Regions from separate parts of the Homo sapiens genome. Here all the other regions are reported to be linked to region 1. The links are microRNA targets in miRTarBase. Many come from high-throughput screens and were not tested one by one. Region 1 holds a microRNA gene; each other region holds the end of a gene's coding sequence. Distances are from middle to middle.

The links. The annotated mature microRNA hsa-miR-5089-5p reads GUGGGAUUUCUGAGUAGCAUC and lies in region 1 at 1,861-1,881, opposite strand. An mRNA with a match to its seed (bases 2 to 7 or 8) in the 3' UTR can be bound and repressed. Matches are read on the target gene's strand: a 7mer-m8 pairs with bases 2 to 8, a 7mer-A1 pairs with bases 2 to 7 and ends in A, and an 8mer does both.
Region 2: miRTarBase lists TLCD2 as a target of hsa-miR-5089-5p. Seed matches in the 3' UTR shown: 7mer-m8 at 2,283-2,289, 7mer-m8 at 2,417-2,423 and 7mer-m8 at 3,555-3,561.
Region 3: the mRNA of IGFBP5 is a reported target of hsa-miR-5089-5p. Seed matches in the 3' UTR shown: 7mer-A1 at 2,859-2,865.
Region 4: miRTarBase lists TRIM73 as a target of hsa-miR-5089-5p. Seed matches in the 3' UTR shown: 7mer-m8 at 719-725.
Region 5: the mRNA of TNRC6B is a reported target of hsa-miR-5089-5p. Seed matches in the 3' UTR shown: 7mer-A1 at 1,221-1,227.

What each region holds. Positions count from the first base shown.
Region 1 is chr17:46,970,792-46,974,907 of GRCh38, reverse strand. It overlaps MIR5089 (microRNA 5089), which reads right to left and starts at 1,891; the gene lies at 1,808-1,891. It also overlaps a transcript of LRRC37A2 not described here and a transcript of GOSR2 not described here.
Region 2 is chr17:1,704,414-1,708,529 of GRCh38, reverse strand. TLCD2 (TLC domain containing 2) reads left to right here. Exons shown (of 4, transcript NM_001164407.2): 4 at 308-4,116. The coding sequence ends at 760. Among named protein-coding and RNA genes, the nearest start is that of TLCD2, 3.9 kb to the left of the region's middle.
Region 3 is chr2:216,673,002-216,677,117 of GRCh38, reverse strand. It overlaps IGFBP5 (insulin like growth factor binding protein 5), which reads left to right. Exons shown (of 4, transcript NM_000599.4): 4 at 236-4,116. The coding sequence ends at 367. Among named protein-coding and RNA genes, the nearest start is that of IGFBP-AS1, 19 kb to the left of the region's middle.
Region 4 is chr7:75,404,763-75,408,878 of GRCh38, forward strand. TRIM73 (tripartite motif containing 73) reads left to right here. Exons shown (of 5, transcript NM_198924.4): 4 at 77-307; 5 at 420-843. The coding sequence ends at 446. LOC124901676 (a long non-coding RNA gene) reads right to left here. Exons shown (of 2, transcript XR_007060389.1): 2 at 2,946-4,116. Among named protein-coding and RNA genes, the nearest start is that of TRIM73, 11 kb to the left of the region's middle.
Region 5 is chr22:40,322,865-40,326,980 of GRCh38, reverse strand. TNRC6B (trinucleotide repeat containing adaptor 6B) reads right to left here. Exons shown (of 23, transcript NM_001162501.2): 23 at 1-4,116. The coding sequence ends at 3,740. Among named protein-coding and RNA genes, the nearest start is that of ADSL, 22 kb to the left of the region's middle.

The DNA of each region.
Region 1 (4,116 bases):
CTAATATGCCAAACACTGAGCTTCCACTCCCTCGAAGAAGGTTTTGTAGCTCCTCCCATTGTACAGATGAGGAAACTGAGGCTCCAAGAGGTTGCCTGAGGTAGCGCAGCTAGAAAGGGGCAGAGCTGGGATTCAAATCAGTTTCACTTGAGATGACCTTTTTTTTTTTTTTTTGAGAGAGAGTCTTGCTCTGTCCCCCAGGCTGGAGTGCAGTGGTGCGATCTGGGCTCACTGCAAGCTCTGCCTCCCGGGTTCACGCCATCCTCCTGCCTCAGCCTCCCGAGTAGCTGGGACTACAGGCGCCCGCCACCACGCCCAGCTAATTTTTTGTATTTTTAGTAGAGACGGGGTTTCACCGTGTTAGCCAGGATGCTCTCGATCTCCTGACCTTGTGATCCACCCGCCTCGGCCTCCCAAAGTGCTGGGATTACAGGCGTGAGCCACCGCGCCCGGCGGAGATGACCTCCTTTGCTCCCCACAACACATTGGTAAGAGGAGCAGATGCTCCTCTAATTTCCTGTTTATAGGAGAGGAAATTAAGATTCTGTTTACTGATCTTGTCCAAGCTCATTCATTCCACCGGTGTCTATTGTAAATCTCCTGTGGGCTAGGCACTGTGCCAGGCACTGGGTGAGCAACGGATGGCAGACCTAGCGTCTGGCCCTGGCCAGCGCCCCAGAAACCCTGGCACTTGCTTTGCTCCCCAGGTAGCTGGTTCCATGCGTCTCAGGGCCTAGGTCAAATCCCCCACATCCTGTCCTCTGAGTCGGGGATAGTACTTCTGGGGTCAGCTGTGCCTTCACCAGCAAGATGTCCCCTAGAACGGGGGAAGTAGGGAGGGCTTACATCACCACATCCACTTACTTTCTTACTTACTTGTCTAAGCCAAGTTCACATAGAGGGGTGCACGGCTGTGGCTGCTGGGGGTCGCCCTCCCCAGACCCCAACTCAGTAGTAGATGGAAAGAAGCCTTGAGCTTTGGGGGTGGCTTCAGAGGCAAAGAATGGAGCATGCGAGGTGGCGGGTACAGCAGAAATGGCCCCCATCCAGCATTCCAGTTTGGGGGAAAGGTATACGTGTACACATGTGTCGCACGCATGCACACACATTTAATAAAAAGGACTTAAGTGGGATTTCCGAGTAGTATCTCTTGAGTGCAGATTCTTGTCAAGAAAGCAAGATTCTTTCTTGTCAATAAAGATCACAGCAGATACACGGGGTGTCCAGGACAGCAAACCCCAGCTCGGCAGACGGGGCAGGTGTCCCAGCCTCTGAGATGACAGCATTGCGGGGTGTTCTGAGGCAGCGCCTGCTCACCCTTGCAGTCATAGTTCTATTACTTAGACTTGAGATCCCATGATAAGTGCACTCCAGTCCATGGATAAGGAGAGTTTAACCCATGGGGAACGCTAGATCTCAACAATTTTCAACAACGAAGCAACAGAGGCTAGGTGTGGTGGCTCATCCCTGTAATCCCAGTAATTTGGGAGGCTAAGGTGGGCGAATCACTTGAGCCCACGAGTTCGAGACCAGCCTGGGCAACACAGTGGGACCCCCATCTATATGGCAAAAAAGAAAAAAGAAAAGAAAAAGAAAAAAGCAGCAGCAGAGTGAGAGTGAGCAAGCCAGCTGTCATATGAGATTGTCATCTGGTTGTGTGGTTAGATAATGGGCTCAAGGTCACACTCAGCTAATGAGTGGCAGAGGCAGTGGGTACAGCAGAAATGGCCCTCATCCGGCATTCCAGTTTTGGGGGCAAGGTATACGTGTACACATGTGGGTTGCACACATGCACACACATTTAATTAAAAGGACTTCAGTGGGATTTCCGAGTAGCATCCCTTGAGTGCAGATTCCAAGGATGCTACTCAGAAATCCCACTGAAGTCCTTTTTATTTGACACTTTCCCACCTGGCTAAGTTAGAGGGAATACTACAAGAAGTTTTACACTCCTAATAAACTTGACGTACAAGACCTAGGTTTGCATGTCAGTGCCAGTATTTTTTAGGTGTGTCTTATGTCGCTCTCCTAATGCTGGGTGCTAAGGAAGTTGCAGAGGTGAAGGCAACTCAGGCTCTGCCCTCGAGATGCTAATAATATGACTGCAGAGACGCTCGTCCACACGGGAGATTGAGTGCTGCCATCCTCTGTGCCTCAATAATTTCTTTTTGGGTAGCCAGCGTCAGCCAGTGGGGTACAGGGTTTGGGGCTACAGAGCAGCTGTAAACCCGGGTTTCTCCTGGGGCTCACTTTGCAGGGGAGTGCCTGGGCAGAAAGCCCGGGACATGGAACCTGTATGTTGACAGCAATGCAGCCAGATGGGCAGAGGCCAACATCCGTCACCAACGGTCACATTGTGCAGACTGCTGGTTCCCTGCTGAGCTGGGGAGGCTGACAAACCTGAATTCCACCTTGTGCTCCAAAGCTGAGGTTCAGCAAGGGCTCGGGGTGCCCAGTGTGCAACCCTTTGCTGGGAATCCTTTCCTGTCCCAGGTTCTCCTTCCCTCTTGGCCAAGAGCCAGAGCTCCTTGCAGGGACTTCTTCCCACTATAGCTGGACTAGAAATGAAGAAGGGAGAGGAGGAGGAGGAGAAAGAAGGGGGAAGAGGAAGCATATGAAAGGACAGCAGGGAGAAGATGGGATGGAAGGAGAAGGGAAGAGAGGAGGAAGAAGCGGGTGGCGGGAGAAGCAAAGCAGGAAGCCAGGGTCTCGCCTCCTGCCCCAGCCCAGCCCCAGGGTTCTGTCAGCACACAGCCTGGGCCCAGCACAGTGCCCACCACAGCAGGCTGTCCCCTCCGGGTGTCTCTATAGAACATAAAGCGGGGAAGCAGCAACACTGAGGGTGATTATGGTTGAGACAGTTCCCTGTCTTGGGAAGGTCCCCCCTCTCCCCCACGTGCCCTGTGCCCTCTGCCTACCCCACCAGCCCCAGGCCTGGCTGTAAGTGTGACCCTTCCTCAGAGCCAGGCCCTGTGCCCTGCCTTTCTCTCTACTTCCTAAAGCTTCCCCCTTGCCGGGGAGGGAGAGGTGCCCAACAGGTGTGGCCCAGAACACAGAAGAAAAACATGCACACAGAACAAACACATGTTAGATGGGTGAGTGGGGGCCTGGTGAGGTGTGCACAGAACCACAGAGCTTGAGGCGTGAGAGACAAGTCTTTGATACAGGCAGGTCGGGGTGCAGGACTTCCCTCCACACTTTCCAGTCATCAGAGAAAGTCGCTTCACCTTCCAAGGCCTGTTTCTTCATCTGTAAAGTGAGGTACTCTAGCTGAGCTCTCTAGGTGGTTGGAAAGTTTAAGTGAGAAAGTGCATGAAAAGCTCCTACATGTACATACATGTATTCATGGAGCCATGCAGCTTTGCCAGGATCTGTGTGGGGTTCAAGGTCAGCAAAGGATATAGTTAGGCCAGGCTAGGGTGGGGCACTGGGTCACAGAGCCCCTAACCCAGCACTGGAGGAGAGCCAAGCCATGCCAGGACCTTGACTATCAGCTCAGAAGAGACTGCAGAAGCCATGGAGTGTGTCCTTATTATATTTTTCCTTTTTAATTAATTAATTAATTAATTTTGAGAAGGAGTCTCGCTCTGTTGCCCAGGCTGGAGTGCAGTAGTGCGATCTCAGCTCACTGCAACCTCTGCCTCCCAAGTTCAAGTGATTCTCCTCCCTCAGCCTCCCAAGTAGCTGAGATTACAGGCACCCACCACCATGCCTGGCTCATTTTTATATGTTAGTAGAGATGGGTTTTCACCATGTCGGCCACGCTGGTCTCAAACTCCTGACCTCAAATGATCCACTGTAAGTGCTGGGATTACAGGCATGAGCCACCGCACCGGCCTATGTTTTAAAGCGATGATACAAGTAATTAACATTTATAGCAACAAAAAAAAGAAAAATGTTGGCAAACAGTAGCCACATTCCTGCAACCTAGAAGGAATCACTATTAATCCTTTGGCATGCAGCCTTTCATATTTTGAGGGATCGATAGAATTAGGTTTGAGATTTTCTCCAGAAAATGTTATTCTAGCATATGCACCACTTTGAACGTATACCGTGATACTGTTTTTCACTTATCAGTGTATGATGACAAAGGTTCATGTCAGTAACTAATATCCA
Region 2 (4,116 bases), 45 Mb from region 1:
GGTGGCAGAGTGAGAGTCTGTCTCGAAAAAAAAAAAAAAAAAAAAAAAAAGCAAGCAAGCCCAGGAATGGGAGGTTAAGGGGGTATTAGGGGGTGAGACAGCCCCTCCCTGGGCCAAGCCTGGTTCCATCTATGGAAGGGTTGTTTCAAGGCTGCTCAGGGCCCCAGGATAAAGGTAAAAGCATAAAGGTCAGGTGTTTGGGGAGCCCCACAGACTGCGTGGAAGCCTCTTTCTTCAGGCCTGGGTTATTGGGACATGATGGCTGGCAGGTCATGGGGTTCCTCTGACCTGTGACCCTGGCTCCCAGGTGGTGAGCTGCCTCAGCACCGCTGTTCTGTCTGGCCACTACGTGGGCTTCTCCATGGTGTCTCTGCTCCTGGAACTGAACTCTGCCTGCTTGCACCTGCGGAAGCTGCTGTTGCTTTCTCGCCAGGCCCCATCCCTGGCCTTCAGCGTGACCAGCTGGGCCTCCTTGGCCACCTTGGCCCTCTTCCGCCTGGTCCCGCTGGGGTGGATGAGTCTGTGGCTGTTCCGGCAGCACCACCAGGTTCCTCTTGCTCTGGTCACCCTGGGTGGAATTGGGCTGGTCACTGTGGGCATCATGAGCATCATATTGGGGATCCGTATTCTGGTCAATGATGTCCTACAGTCTCGACCCCATCCACCCAGCCCTGGCCATGAGAAAACCAGGGGGACCAGGACACGTCGTGACAATGGACCTGTCACCAGCAACAGTTCGACTCTCAGCCTGAAAGACTAGAGAGAAGCCATGGGCCCCTCGCTGGGGGAGGTGGGGCCAGGACAAGGAGATGAGGGTCTTCCATGCACAGTCCCCCATCAGGGTGAGGGCCAGACTTGCTCATCAGAATCTCAGTTTCTCTTCCAGCTAACTCACATCCCTTCCCCTTCCTCGGATCTAAGAAGAAATGCTGATGTTGGATGGGTGGGAACCTGGGTTTCTGTTCACTGAAATCCGTCATCAGATGAGCATCCTTTCCAGCAAATAAACTCAAGAGGTACAGCTAGAGCTATCAGTAAAGGGTGGCAGGAGGCATGCAGCTGGAAGAAACTGCCAGTGGAGACAGAAGCTCTTTGCTTTAACCCAGGGACAGATGGGGGAAGGTGAAGTCCCACTAGGATCAGAGAGATCTGGTATGGGGCGGGTGGGGACAGAGAGAAAAGAGATCTCACCTATAACCAAATTCTGGCAGTGGGAGGAAGGTAGAGGAGGTGCTATCTGTAGCAGCAGAGATGGACGTGATAGTTGCCAAGAGACAGAACCTGGGCCACAGCAATTGCTGCTGATGTTTCTGGTTCTCAAAGCCACACTCCTGTTTTTCTTTTTCTTTTTCTTTTTTTTTATGAGACGGAATCTTACTCTGTCACCCAGGCTGGAGTGTAGTGGCACGATTTCGGCTCACTGCAACCTCAGCCTCCTGGGTTCAAGTGATTGTCCTGCCTTAGCCTCCCGAGTAGCTGTGACTTCAGGCATGCACCACCAAGCCCAGCTAATTTTTGTATTTTTTGGTGGAGAGGAGGTTTCACCATGTTGCCCAGGCTGGTCTCGAACTCCTGACCTCAAGTAATCCACCTGCCTCGGCCTCCCAGAGTGCTGGGATTACAGACGTGAGAACAGGCGCACACTCCTGTTTTTCTCCTTAACCCTGGTCCTGCTGTGTCTAGCCTTTTATTTTTATTTTTATTTTTAGTATCTTTTGACTTTTCTTTTTTCTTTTCTTTTTTTTTTTTTTTTTTTGAGACAAGTTCTTGCTCTGTTGCCCAGGATGGAGTGCAGTGGCTTGATCTTGGCTCACTGCAATCTCTGCCTCCCAGGCTCAAGCAATTCTCCTGCCTCCCACCTCAGCCTCCCAAGTAGCTGGGACTACAGGTGCACGCCACTGCACCAGGCTAATTTTTGTATTTTTTTGTAGAGACCAGGTTTTGCCATGTTGCCCAGGCTGGTCTCAAACTTTTGCACTCAAGTGATCCACCCACCTCAGCCTCCCAAAGTGCTGGGATTACAGACGTGAGCCACCGTACCCGACCCCTTTTGACTTTTCAAAGACAATTCGGATTCTTAGAGGAATGAACACAGGGCTGGTTTGTCTTCTTAGGACGGCACTGAAGTCTAGAATTACAGAAGGAAAGGTGCCCAGTACAGAGTTTTCCCAGGCCCAGGCTTTCATGGAAGAACAAGGGCAGAGGTAGACTGTGTGAGAGAAGGCTGCAGGAGGATAAAGGAATAGCTGGCCCTCTGGCTGGGCGCAGCAGCTCACGCCTGTAATCCCAGCACTTTGGGAGGCCGAGGCGGGAGGATCACCTGAGGTCAGGAGTTCAAGACCAGCCTGGTCAACATGGTGAAACCCTGTCTCTACTAAAAATACAAAATTAGCCGGGCATGGTGGTGCATGCCTGTAATCCCAGCTACTCAGGAGGCTGAGGCAGGAGAATCGCTTGAACCCAGGAGGCAGAGGTTGCAGTGAGCCGAGGTCGTGCCACTGCACTCCAGCCTGGGCAAACAGAGTGAGACTCTTGTCTCTAAAGAAAAAAAAAAAAGGAAGAGCTGGGACTTTTCTGAGATACATTCATAAAGTCTTCTTCCTCCCTGCTGCTTCTGCTGCGTTTTTTTCTGTTGAACAAGACCCCTTCCTTCCCAGAACATCGAGGTGACGGGAAGTGCCCAGCAGATTAAGTCTGCTGTTCCACTAAACAATGGACTGAGAGAGGCAACCCTTAGCCATCCACAGAAAAGCTACATGAGCAAAAGCAAGAGACAGGAAGATTGTCTTCAAAAAAAAACAAAACAAAACAAAAACCTTGCTAAGAAGCGGAGGTACAGAAAGATACGAAGAATGACAGAGACAGACATACATAGATTGAGTGATAGATAGAAAGAGAGAAGGATTATTCACATAGAGGTGACAGAGGCAAAGAAGGATGGAGGGCAAAAGAGACAGGCCCTAGCAGAAATATGGAGAAAGGCTGTCATAGATCCTGAGAGACACCAAAGTCACAGAACTGATAAAAGGGTTATAAACAAAAAGGACCAGAAAAATAGAAATGAAGGCCGACAAGAAGAGACCCCAAGGCTGAAAGGCACAGAGAGTCTAGACAGTGAAATAGAGTGAGTGACAAGGAGAAACACCCAGGCTCAGGAGTGATGGAGGAAATACTGGCAGATAGAGAGATCAGAAGAGCAAGAGGAGAGGTGGGAACAGAGAAGAGCGGGGACGAGTCCGGGGAGCTGAGAAGCAGAAGGCGGAGGAGGCAGTCAGTGGGAAGATTCACTGACAGAAGAGACCAGGAGATATGGGGACTTGGAGGCAGGCAGAAAGACAAAGGACAAACAGCTGCAGCGCAAACCCTAAAGACAGGCTGACAGTAACCGGTCGGCAGAGACTGGTAGGAAGATAAGGACAAGTCAGAATCAGGGGTGTCAACTGAGATGCAAATATAGGCAAAGGAGCTGACAAAGAGAATCACAGAGAGAAAAAAAAGGAGGAGAGCACAGAACAATTTAAATATCCAGGCTGGGCATGGTGGGTCACGCCTGTAATCCCAGCATTTTGGGAGGCCGAGGCAGGCGGATCACGAGGTCAGGAGATGACCATCCTGGCTAACATGGTGAAACACCATCTCTACTAAAAATACAAAAAATTGGCCGGGCGTGGTGGCAGGCGCCCGTAATCCCGGCTACTGAGGAGGCTGAGGCAGGAGAATCGTTTGAACCTGGGAGGCCGAGGTTGTTATAATGAGCCGAGATAGTGCCACTGCAGTCCAGCAGGGGTGACAGAGTGAGACTCCGTCTCAAAAAAAAAAATTGAATATCCAAAGAACAAAGAAGAGGCAGGAACCCAGAAATGAAAAGAGGAGGAAAAATACAGGTGTGAAAAAAAAATGAGAGGGATTGTGAGAAGTCTCCATCATAGAGTCATAAAAACAGGCGCAAAGGATGAAAATACATCGAGACTGAGGAAAACACAGTTGGAAGGAGCTAAACACAAGCAGAAAATAAGAGCAGAGCATTTAAATGTAATTAGATAAAAACCCAAGAGGCAAAGGTATAGATAGTGAGCTAGAGAAACAATGCAGAATTTTGTCAGAGTCTGTACTTCT
Region 3 (4,116 bases), not on the chromosome of region 1:
AAAAAAAAAGGAAAGAAAGGGATTGAAGGAGCTTGCCAAGGGTAGGCTGCCTAAATTCACATTTTCCCTGGGTCTTTCCGTGAAATGGGGACACCAGAAACCCAAGGGTCGGGTCTAGTGCCCTCAACTCTCTGGGGATGAGAGTCTTGCCTTGGGGTAGACAAGAGGCAGGGCAGGGAGGAGCAGAGCCCTGGGGTGCGGCCGTCCTCACCGCCTGTTGCTCTACTCACCCCAGTGCAAACCTTCCCGTGGCCGCAAACGTGGCATCTGCTGGTGCGTGGACAAGTACGGGATGAAGCTGCCAGGCATGGAGTACGTTGACGGGGACTTTCAGTGCCACACCTTCGACAGCAGCAACGTTGAGTGATGCGTCCCCCCCCAACCTTTCCCTCACCCCCTCCCACCCCCAGCCCCGACTCCAGCCAGCGCCTCCCTCCACCCCAGGACGCCACTCATTTCATCTCATTTAAGGGAAAAATATATATCTATCTATTTGAGGAAACTGAGGACCTCGGAATCTCTAGCAAGGGCTCAACTTCGAAAATGGCAACAACAGAGATGCAAAAAGCTAAAAAGACACCCCCCCCCTTTAAATGGTTTTCTTTTTGAGGCAAGTTGGATGAACAGAGAAGGGAAGAGAGGAAGAACGAGAGGAAGAGAAGGGAAGGAAGTGTTTGTGTAGAAGAGAGAGAAAGACGAATAGAGTTAGGAAAAGGAAGACAAGCAGGTGGGCAGGAAGGACATGCACCGAGACCAGGCAGGGGCCCAACTTTCACGTCCAGCCCTGGCCTGGGGTCGGGAGAGGTGGGCGCTAGAAGATGCAGCCCAGGATGTGGCAATCAATGACACTATTGGGGTTTCCCAGGATGGATTGGTCAGGGGGAGAAAGGAAAAGGCAAAACACTCCAGGACCTCTCCCGGATCTGTCTCCTCCTCTAGCCAGCAGTATGGACAGCTGGACCCCTGAACTTCCTCTCCTCTTACCTGGGCAGAGTGTTGTCTCTCCCCAAATTTATAAAAACTAAAATGCATTCCATTCCTCTGAAAGCAAAACAAATTCATAATTGAGTGATATTAAATAGAGAGGTTTTCGGAAGCAGATCTGTGAATATGAAATACATGTGCATATTTCATTCCCCAGGCAGACATTTTTTAGAAATCAATACATGCCCCAATATTGGAAAGACTTGTTCTTCCACGGTGACTACAGTACATGCTGAAGCGTGCCGTTTCAGCCCTCATTTAATTCAATTTGTAAGTAGCGCAGCAGCCTCTGTGGGGGAGGATAGGCTGAAAAAAAAAAGTGGGCTCGTATTTATCTACAGGACTCCATATAGTCATATATAGGCATATAAATCTATTCTTTTTCTTTGTTTTTTTCTTTCTTCCTTTCTTTCAAAGGTTTGCATTAACTTTTCAAAGTAGTTCCTATAGGGGCATTGAGGAGCTTCCTCATTCTGGGAAAACTGAGAAAACCCATATTCTCCTAATACAACCCGTAATAGCATTTTTGCCTGCCTCGAGGCAGAGTTTCCCGTGAGCAATAAACTCAGCTTTTTTGTGGGGCACAGTACTGGATTTGACAGTGATTCCCCACGTGTGTTCATCTGCACCCACCGAGCCAGGCAGAGGCCAGCCCTCCGTGGTGCACACAGCACGCGCCTCAGTCCATCCCATTTTAGTCTTTAAACCCTCAGGAAGTCACAGTCTCCGGACACCACACCACATGAGCCCAACAGGTCCACGATGGATCCACCAGTCCCACCCCAGCCTTTTCCTTTCATCTGAACAGAATGTGCATTTTTGGAAGCCTCCCTCACTCTCCATGCTGGCAGAGCAGGAGGGAGACTGAAGTAAGAGATGGCAGAGGGAGATGGTGGCAAAAAGGTTTAGATGCAGGAGAACAGTAAGATGGATGGTTCCGGCCAGAGTCGATGTGGGGAGGAACAGAGGGCTGAAGGGAGAGGGGGCTGACTGTTCCATTCTAGCTTTGGCACAAAGCAGCAGAAAGGGGGAAAAGCCAATAGAAATTTCCTTAGCTTCCCCACCATATGTATTTTCTAGGATTTGAGAGGAAAGAGAGGAAAATGGGGGAATGGGTTGCAAAATAGAAATGAGCTTAATCCAGGCCGCAGAGCCAGGGAAGGTGAGTAACTTTAGGAGGGTGCTAGACTTTAGAAGCCAGATAGGAAGAATCAGTCTAAACTGGCCATGCTTTGGAAGGGACAAGACTATGTGCTCCGCTGCCCACCTTCAGCCTGCAATGAGGGACTGAGGCCCACGAGTCTTTCCAGCTCTTCCTCCATTCTGGCCAGTCCCTGCATCCTCCCTGGGGTGGAGGATGGAAGGAAAGCTGGGACAAGCAGGGAACGCATGATTCAGGGATGCTGTCACTCGGCAGCCAGATTCCGAAACTCCCATTCTCCAATGACTTCCTCAACCAATGGGTGGCCTTGTGACTGTTCTTTAAGGCTGAAGATATCCAGGAAAGGGGGCTTGGACACTGGCCAAGGAGACCCCTTCGTGCTGTGGACACAGCTCTCTTCACTCTTTGCTCATGGCATGACACAGCGGAGACCGCCTCCAACAACGAATTTGGGGCTACGAAGAGGAATAGCGAAAAAGCAAATCTGTTTCAACTGATGGGAACCCTATAGCTATAGAACTTGGGGGCTATCTCCTATGCCCCTGGACAGGACAGTTGGCTGGGGACAGGAGAAGTGCTCAATCTTCATGAGACAAAGGGGCCCGATAGGGCCAGCAGCCACAAGGCCTTGACCTGCCGAGTCAGCATGCCCCATCTCTCTGCACAGCTGTCCCCTAAACCCAACTCACGTTTCTGTATGTCTTAGGCCAGTATCCCAAACCTCTTCCACGTCACTGTTCTTTCCACCCATTCTCCCTTTGCATCTTGAGCAGTTATCCAACTAGGATCTGCCAAGTGGATACTGGGGTGCCACTCCCCTGAGAAAAGACTGAGCCAGGAACTACAAGCTCCCCCCACATTCCTCCCAGCCTGGACCTAATTCTTGAGAGGGGCTCTCTCTTCACGGACTGTGTCTGGACTTTGAGCAGGCTTCTGCCCCTTGCGTTGGCTCTTTGCTGCCAGCCATCAGGTGGGGGATTAGAGCCTGGTGTAAGTGCGCCAGACTCTTCCGGTTTCCAAAGTTCGTGCCTGCGAACCCAAACCTGTGAGTCTCTTCTGCATGCAGGAGTTTCTCCTGGGCAGCTGGTCACTCCCCAGAGAAGCTGGGCCTTCATGGACACATGGAACTAAGCCTCCCAAATGGGAGTTCTGGCTGAGCCCAGGGTGGGGAGATCCTGGGAAGGGAGGCACTGGAGGAAGACGGCACCTCTTCCCCCATGGCAGGGTGTGAGGGAGGCAGGTTTGGAATGGTGCGAGTATGGCAATCTAAGCAGGGGTCTGGTCTCTTTGACTCCAGGCTGGCCTTTGGCCGACTGTCTGCTCACCCAGAGACCTTGGACTCCGGACTATCCATGGCTCCGAATCTAAGTGCTGCCCACTCCCATGCTCACACCCACAGAAGGTCTTCCCATCCCCTTTAGATTCGTGCCTCACTCCACCAGTGAGGAAGATGCCTCTGTCTTTCCCACGACTGCCAGGAGATAGGGAAGCCCAGCCAGGACTGACCCTCCTTCCTCCAGCCTGCCCTGACCCACCTGGCAAAGCAGGGCACATGGGGAGGAAGAGACTGGAACCTTTCTTTGACAGCCAGGCCTAGACAGACAGGCCTGGGGACACTGGCCCCATGAGGGGAGGAAGGCAGGCGCACGAGGTCCAGGGAGGCCCTTTTCTGATCATGCCCCTTCTCTCCCACCCCATCTCCCCACCACCACCTCTGTGGCCTCCATGGTACCCCCACAGGGCTGGCCTCCCCTAGAGGGTGGGCCTCAACCACCTGCTCCCGCCACGCACCGGTTAGTGAGACAGGGCTGCCACGGCAACCGCCAAGCCCCCCTCAAGGTGGGACAGTACCCCGGACCCATCCACTCACTCCTGAGAGGGCTCCGGCCCAGAATGGGAACCTCAGAGAAGAGCTCTAAGGAGAAGAAACCCCATAGCGTCAGAGAGGATATGTCTGGCTTCCAAGAGAA
Region 4 (4,116 bases), not on the chromosome of region 1:
GGGGACACCGAGGCCAGCCAGACAGAGCCTGGCAGCTCGGCTGTGACTCTGCAGTGAGCAGCCCTCCCTGTCCCAGAATGAGTCGGATGTCTTCAGCTGGGTGATCCGCCGCGAGTTCCAGGAGCTGCGCCACCCGGTGGACGAGGAGAAGGCCCGCTGCCTGGAGGGGATAGGGGGTCACACCCGTGGCCTGGTGGCCTCCCTGGACATGCAGCTGGAGCAGGCCCAGGGAACCCGGGAGCGGCTGGCCCAAGCCGAGTGTGTGCTGGAACAGTTCGGCAATGAGGACCACCATGAGTTCATCTGGGTGAGTGGACAGGGAGGCGTCCCATCCCCATACCCGCCAGGGCCTTCCCCTTCCCAACAGTGCCCTGGCTTCCCACCTTCTAGCCTTAACCTCCCTCTCTCTTGCCTTCCAGAAGTTCCACTCCATGGCCTCCAGGTAATAACCTTGGAGAGAGCTCAGCCAGGGTCTGGTGGCTGCGGGCACGGGCATCTCAGCTCCACTGGTTCCTCCATTCAGCTTAACCAGCGCCTCCCAAGCAGCTGCCTATAGCTGGCTCTATAACTGAGCCTGGGGAAGATAGAGGAAAGTCACGTCCCTGCCTTCAAGGGTCTCGCAGACAGGTGGGGAGGCAGATGGTGAACTGTGGGTACCTAGAACAGCAGAAGTTCACTCAAGCTACAGAAATACTAGAGGAGGGTAGCTCATGCCTGCAATCCCAGTACTTTGGGAGGCCAAGGCAGGAGTATTGCTGGAGGCCGGGAGTTCGAGACCAGCCTGGCCAATGTAGTAACACCCCCGTCTCTACAAAAAATACAAAAATAAAAAAATTAGTTGGGCATGGTGGCATGCGCCTATAGTCCCTGCTACTCATAAGGCTGAGATGGGAGGATTGCTTGAGCCCAAAGTTTGATGCTGCAGTGAGTCATGATCATGCTACTGCATGATCCAGCCTGGGTGACAGAGCGAGACCCTGTCTCAGAAAACAAAACACTAGAGGAGGAGCAGGTGTCTGGGAGGCCTGGCAGAGGGGCACACGCCTGATGGCTGAGAAGGGCCCAGGACCCGAGTTTGCCAGGCAAGCCGAGGGAACAGTCCTGTAAAAGGGGGAGTGGCGTGCGGACTCTGGTTATGAGAAGTTCAGGGTGGCTGGATGTAAGGCAGGATATCAGGAGGAGTGGGAGCTGGGAGAGGTGGGAAATGGCCAGAAGCAACATCCAGGAGCACCAGGCATCCCTTGCTTACCGTCCTCACCCTTGCGCAGCAGGCAGTATCAGCCCTGCCTGAAACTTGCTCTGCAGATTGTGGGAAGAGAGCGGATCCATGTTCTAGACCCAACAAACGAACACGTGCAGTTCCCAAGCCTTCCTCACTCCCTGTTTATGGGAGACTCCTTGTTTCTCACATTTCTTTTAGTCTTAGAGACAATTTGGTCAGGAGACATGGGTTTAAATGAAGGCACAGAGCCTGGGCACAGCAGCTTACACCTGTAATCCCAGCACTTTGGAAGGCCAAGGCAGAAGGATGACTTGAGGTCAGGAGATCAAGACCAGCCTGGCCAACATGGTGAAACCCTGTCTCTATGAAAAATACAAAAATTAGCTGGGTGTGGTGGCACATACCTGTAATCCCAGCTACTCGGGAGGCTGAGGCACGAGAATCTCTTGAACCTGGGAGGTGGAGGTTGCAGTGAGCTGAGATTGCTCCACTGCACTCCAGCCTGGGTGACAGAGCAAGACTCCATCTCAAAAAAAAAAGAAAAGAAAACAAGAAAAAAAAAAGTCCGGGCATGGTGGCTCATGCCTATAATCCCAGCACTTTATGCTCAAGTCTGCTTTTTTTTTTTTTTTTTTTGAGATGGAGTCTCGCTCTGTCACCCAGGCTGGAGTGCAGTGGCACGATCTCAGCTCACTGCAACCTACACCTCTCAGGTTCAAGTGATCTCCTGCCTCAGCCTCCCGAGTAGCTGGGATTACAGGTGTGCACCCCATGCTCAGCTAATTTTTTTATTTTTAATATAGATGGGGTTTTGCCATGTTGACCATGCTGGTCTCGAACTCCTGACCTCAAATGATTCGCCTGCCTCGGCCTCCCAAAGTGCTGGGATTACAGGCGTGAGCCACCGTGCCCAGCCTTGAGTCTTTATTTTTAGAGACAGGATCTTGCTCTGTCACCCAGGCTGGAGCGCAGTGGTGCAACTGTAGCTCACTGCAGCCTTGACCTCCCAGGCTCAAGTGATCCTCCTGCCTCAGCCTCCTGAGTAGCTGGGACGACAAGTGTCTGCTACCATACCCAGCTAATATTTAAATTTTTAGTAGAGATGGGATCTTGCTATGTTACCCAGGCTGGTCTGGGCCTCAAGCAATCCTCCCACCTTGGCCTCCCAAAGTGTTGGGATTATAGGTGTGAGCCACTGTGCTTAGCCTCCCATAACCCTTTGATTCACGATACTCATAGGCTAAGTGGGTCCTGGAAGCTCCGGGGTAGCCTTCTAACCAAGATGCTGGCTCTGGCCACTGGAAGTCAAACTGGGTGCACAGACCAGTGAGAGGGCATGAGGGAGCCTAGCAGGGGTGAACAGCAACCCTCAGCCTCCCCACAGCCCTGCCTCTCCTCCTGCCTCTCCTCGGTCTCCTTTGAGGATTCAGCCTCTCGTCCTCACCACTTATGGTCTGAGGGCCTCCAGGCTCCTCTTCTGGCTGTCTACCCCTCCACACCCATAGCTCCAGTCATCACTTCCACAGGGATGACTCAGAAGTTCCCTCTCCGGGAGACCCGTCCCTTACAGGCCACATCCAGTAGCGCTCCAGCCATTCAGCAGCTCCGCCTGGACGTCAAGGGCATGTCCAAAACCGCGCTCATGATCTTCCTACTCCCCCATCCCTGAGATTTATCCTGTGGCTGTGGTGTCCTGTGGCTACTGTAACAAATGACCACAAACTTGGTGGCTTCAAACAAATTTAATCTCTCATGGTTCTGAAGGCCAGATGTCCAAGATCACGATGACGGCAAGGCCGCGCTCCCTCTGGAGACTGTCGGGGAAAACCTGCCCCTTTCCTCTTCAGCTTCAGGTGGTGGCTGCCATGCCCTGGTGTTTCCTGGCCTGTGACCGCATCATTCCAATCTCTGCCTCCATCTTCACGTGGCCTTTTCTGTATGTGCCGGTCTAATCTTCCTCTGCTTCTCTCTTATTTTTTGTTTTTTGAGACAGAGTCTCACTCTGTTGCCCAGGCTGGAGTGCAGTGGTGTGATCTCGGCTCACTGCAACCGCCACTTCCCAGGTTCAAGCAATTCCCTTAACTTAGCCCCCTGAGTAGCTGGGATTACAGGCGTGCACTCAGCAAATTTTTGTGTTTTTAGTAGAGACGTGGTTTCACCATGTTGGCTAGGCTGGTTGTGAACTCCTGGGCTCAAGGGATCCACCAGCCTCAGTCTCCCAAAGTGCTGGGATTACAGGTGTGACCCACTGCGCTTCTCCCTATAAGAGAGGCCTTCCTCTGCCTCTCTCTTATAGGGATACTTGTGATGCCATGCAGGACCTGCCCAGATAATCCAGGATAACCTTCTCTCCAAATCCTTCCCCTGATCACTCCTACAGATCTCTTCCATAGAAGGTGACATTTCCAGGCTCTAGGAATTAGGACCTGCTCTCTCTGGGTGGCCGTTGTTCACTCCACCACCCCAGGTTTCCCCATCCTACCAAAAGACACAGCAGCATTGTGTCAACTGCCCAAACTGAAAACCTATGAGTTATTCTCGACCTGACCTTTTTCCTGAGCAAGTTCTGTGGATTTAACTTAGCGGTCACACTGCCAACTTCAACCGAACTCCACTGCCACCAACTCAGTCCAGGCCACCAGTTCTTGTTTAGGTGACTGCCATGACCCCCATTGGTCTCTCCCTGCCTCAACTCTGTCCCCTCCATCCTATATCCCCACACTGTAACCAGACTGATTATTTATTTATTTATTTATTTTTTGGGGAAAGAAGCTTGCTCTATCCCCCAGGCTGGAGTGCGGTGGCACAATCTCAGCTTACTGCAACCTCCGCCTCCCAGGTTCAAACGATTCTGCCTCAGCCTCCCAAGTAGCTGAGATTACAGGTGTCTGCCA
Region 5 (4,116 bases), not on the chromosome of region 1:
AAGGGATGGGGATAATTAAGCAGCAGATCTTCAAAACAGCAATTAAAACGAGCACAACAGTAGCTGGGAGCTAAAAAAGTAAAATCACTTGTTCCTTATTAGATTCTTCTATATTTTCTCCTCCTCCCAAAACAAACGGAGGTAAGACAGACATTCTTCATTAATAGGACAGTCCATAGATAATTTTCCTCTAGTAATGCCTATATTTAAAATTTGTTCCAAAAATTATTAACCTATATTTCCTAACTCTTTACATAGATTCTCAGCAATCCAACTGTACTATTTTACAGATTACTTTTTTTTTTAAGCTGTTGTTTCTTCCTTCCTTCCTTTCTTTTGTTGCTGGGGTTGTGGGGACAAGGAGAAGGGTTCCTTTAAAAAAATAAAAATTACTAGGGGAGATTTCAGTTCAGTCTCAAATGGAAAGGAACAAAGTGATGGCATTCTCATCTATATACACCAAACACTCTCCCATTAAACTACACACAATTTCAAAAGAATCCATGATCGAGCTCTTACAAAGCTTAATCCTTCTCCCATATTTTTAAGATAATGAATTTACCTGTTGCTGCTAAATTGATAATTTTTAAAAAATATTTCTATGTGTTTTAAAATGTGTGATCCCCAGTATGACAATAATGTTTGGAGACTTTTCTTTTTACATTTTTTTAAGTAAAAATTGTTTAAACTTTCTGAAGTTTCAGGAACTTGTAAAAGTTTATTAACAGGAAAGAAACAGCCATCTCTCTAGGATAAGATATGGTTAAATAAACCATCTTCAAAAAACTGGCTTCCTACCCTAGAATTCCTGAGAATGCTTGCAAATTTTAAAGCAGGAAAACAAATGTTAAAAACAGAAACAAAAAACACTGTTAAATGCTCCCAGAGTTAGTCTTCATCTAAAATATATATTTATATGTATATATATACGCACTTTTTGGTCTTTTTTTTTTAAAGTTTTTAGTTTTTTTCCCTTTAAGCTTATGATGGAAGAACATTTTAGCTTCTCATGTTTATTTTTACATATTTCAAATCCCTCATTATGTCTTGTAAACAAGAGGGGCTCTAGCACCCGGCTTTCACCGTAGTATCGTAAGGAACTCAACTAACCCATAGTGCAGGTCAAGGAACCAACAGGCAGGAGGAGAGGAGGGTGGGGCAGGACACAGCAGTGAACCAAGAGCGGCAGTGGACAGGGTCGCCACTGGCTCGCAGGAGCCTTGGGATATGCTCCTGGCCCAGGGACACTAAGATTTAACCTTCTCTAGATGTCTGAATACAAGCTGCTCTTCACCTGGTGGTCACCGCACGACAGCACTTTGCTCCACACAGAGAGCGGTCAGTGGGGGCTGCTGGAAGCAGAGCTTTTGCATGGGGAACAGTGGTGGAAGGGGCACGGTGGTGATTCAAATTGCAGAGCAGGAAGAGGGCATGCTCAAGGCACCCAGCGGGGCCACGTCAATGCTGCAGATGCCAAGTGTGACCACCTACCCACAGAGGGCTCATGCAGGCTTGTATATGTGAACACTCACTTGAGTCATGCCTGTCAATCTCTTTTGAGGCTAGGTTTATAATCAACAGGGTAAGCCAGAAGGGCTACAGAATTTCCCATTCTTTGTCTCACAAAACCACTGAAATGCAAATAACTTGTTTTAGGCTTTTCCTATACACACCCACCCACCCACCTACACACAGACACAAGCTAAAAAGTCAAATACATTAGGCATTGTTGTATTGTATCCTTCACTGAAGACGCTAAAGAAAGAAAAACTCCCTTGTCCTCAATAGCAGCAAGTTACAGAGGACAGTAGAGGTCTGCTCCCACCAAGGGTTGGAATGGGCAGGTATTTGCTGGTACAAAATGTCGGCACTTTATGTTAAACAGCATAATGCAGACTGGGATGTCCACACAAGTGCTAGCACGTCACCGGCATCCATCCCCCCACCCTATCTGGTTTTTCGCCCCCTTCAGGTCTGCTATAATTCTCTTCACAATAAGCAGTTTGATACATTTTGATTCCGACATAAGTACATACATGTTGGTGATAACTGTAGATTAAACGTTGACCCCTGTTCGGCCCAGAGTACTACTACATTGATGCTTAAAAAAAAAAAAAAGTATTTAAATACCGAAATTAAAAAAGCAAAATTACAAGGTGGGGGGAAGAGGTCAAAAATCAAAAAAAGGTGCAATACTTAAAAGTCTTCGCTAAGTTATACCTGCCTAAGCAAAACCACATACACAGGAAATACACAACACAGAGAAACAAAAGGAAACGCTTGAAGTACACACTGGTTTAAGAACATTCGTTAAGTAAACGTTTCTGTCAGTGATGGCCTGGTGCTGTAACGCGCCACGGCCTGGCACAGGTAACGCTCGGCGAGAAAGGAGCAGAGGGAGTAGCTGCAGATGCTTTCAGGAGGCTGCTCACCACTTATTCTTTTCTGTTTTCATAAAATGAAAAAGAGAACCAACCAACAGAAATATGTAACTCAACTTCACCTAATTTTTTGAAGAATTTCTCAAACCTGATCATAAGGAAAGAGGGAACAAAGTTTCTCTGTTTTTGAGACATCGCATCATCAAAAGTTATCTTCCGTTCCCATTTCAAACTAACGAAAAGGCCTGCATGAAACTTAACAGATACTCAGATGTGCCTGGTGGCCATTCACTTAAAAAAAAAAAAAAACAGAAATAAACACACCGTTGCTCCAAGAGGTACCTCCTGCTCTAGTTTTTTGGACTTGGCAGTGCTCCACTCTACTGCTAGGTCAAAAGAACAGCCAGAGAAACCCCACATTCAGGCTAAGTTGCAAATGGAAAGGAGCTCCCTGCTTTCATCATTAAAAAGCACTCTGTTCATCTTAATGCAGCCCAATGGAGTTGCTTTAGTAGCAGTGGCTCTCCGGGCCTGTGTGTTCTCATAGTTAAAAAAATAAAATAAAAAGCAGATGGGCCGGCCAGCCAGCCTGCAGACTGTCAGCGATGCAGCTTTCTGAGAAGTCAGGGTGGGGCAGGGGAGAAGGGAAGAACACAGGCACACACACAGAGACAGAGAAGGATGCACGCGAATGCACATGAACACACGTGCACACACACACCAGAACGAGCATGCCTGGGCAGTTACATGTGCCAGAACACACTGGTATTTATCAACCAGCCAATCACAAATTTTTTCCTTTTTTTTTTTTTTAGGTTTTTTGTGTTTTTGTTTTTAAAGTGAGGCTCCGTCAAGTCTTCCCTCCCCCCTCCCCCAACAATTCTTTTGAATTTCCCTCCCTCCCAAACATGGTAGACCTAAGGACGGAAACACACCCAGTGCAAACAAAGTTAAAAAGCTATTTTTTTTCAGTATATATGTTTCTTAGCAACAACTTCCATATAACATGAAAAAAGTGAAAAACTAGAAACTAATTTTTTTAATTTTTTTGTGTTTAAATTTAAATGGTATGTGTACTTGCTTCACATTGTCTTTCTAGGTTGGCGTTCATGATTCAAGTATTTCAAGAGTGATATGTTCTCTTTTTGGATTCATATTCCAAACGAAAAAACTGAAGTTATAAGGGAGGCAACTATGTGCTCAGACAGTCTGTCAATGACCCACCTTTTTTTCTCTCCGTTTTCTTTTTTCCTTTTAAAAATGTATTTATTGCAAGTTGAAAAAAAAAACGAAAAGGTCAAGTTAGTGCTGCTGCTGTTCCAAAAAAGGTCACGAGGTCAGAGTTGAAAGTTCTAAGTTCAGATTGAATCCGACCCTCCTCCCAGAAGGTCACCAGGTAGTAAAGGAGCAGGGCTGCCCATCCTATGGGGATCTTCCACCGTTGGGACTCCCCATAAGCTAGAAGAATAGTTTGGGGGCCCCCACAATGAAGCGCCAGCAAGATCGGCCCCGCTGCTGCCACCAGCGCTGCTGCTCCACTGCCCGAGCCCAGTGGACCCACCAAAAAGATTCAGAGCAGGTCCCACGGGATCTGACTGGTTCTGGCCGGTCTCCAGCGACTGCCACCCCGCAGCTGGCGCACTTGGGGTTGCTGCAGGTGTAGGGGGCTGAGCTTGTGCCAGAAAGCGGCTGACTTCATCATCAGTGGCAAACTCAGCAAGGATGGTAGTGTTTC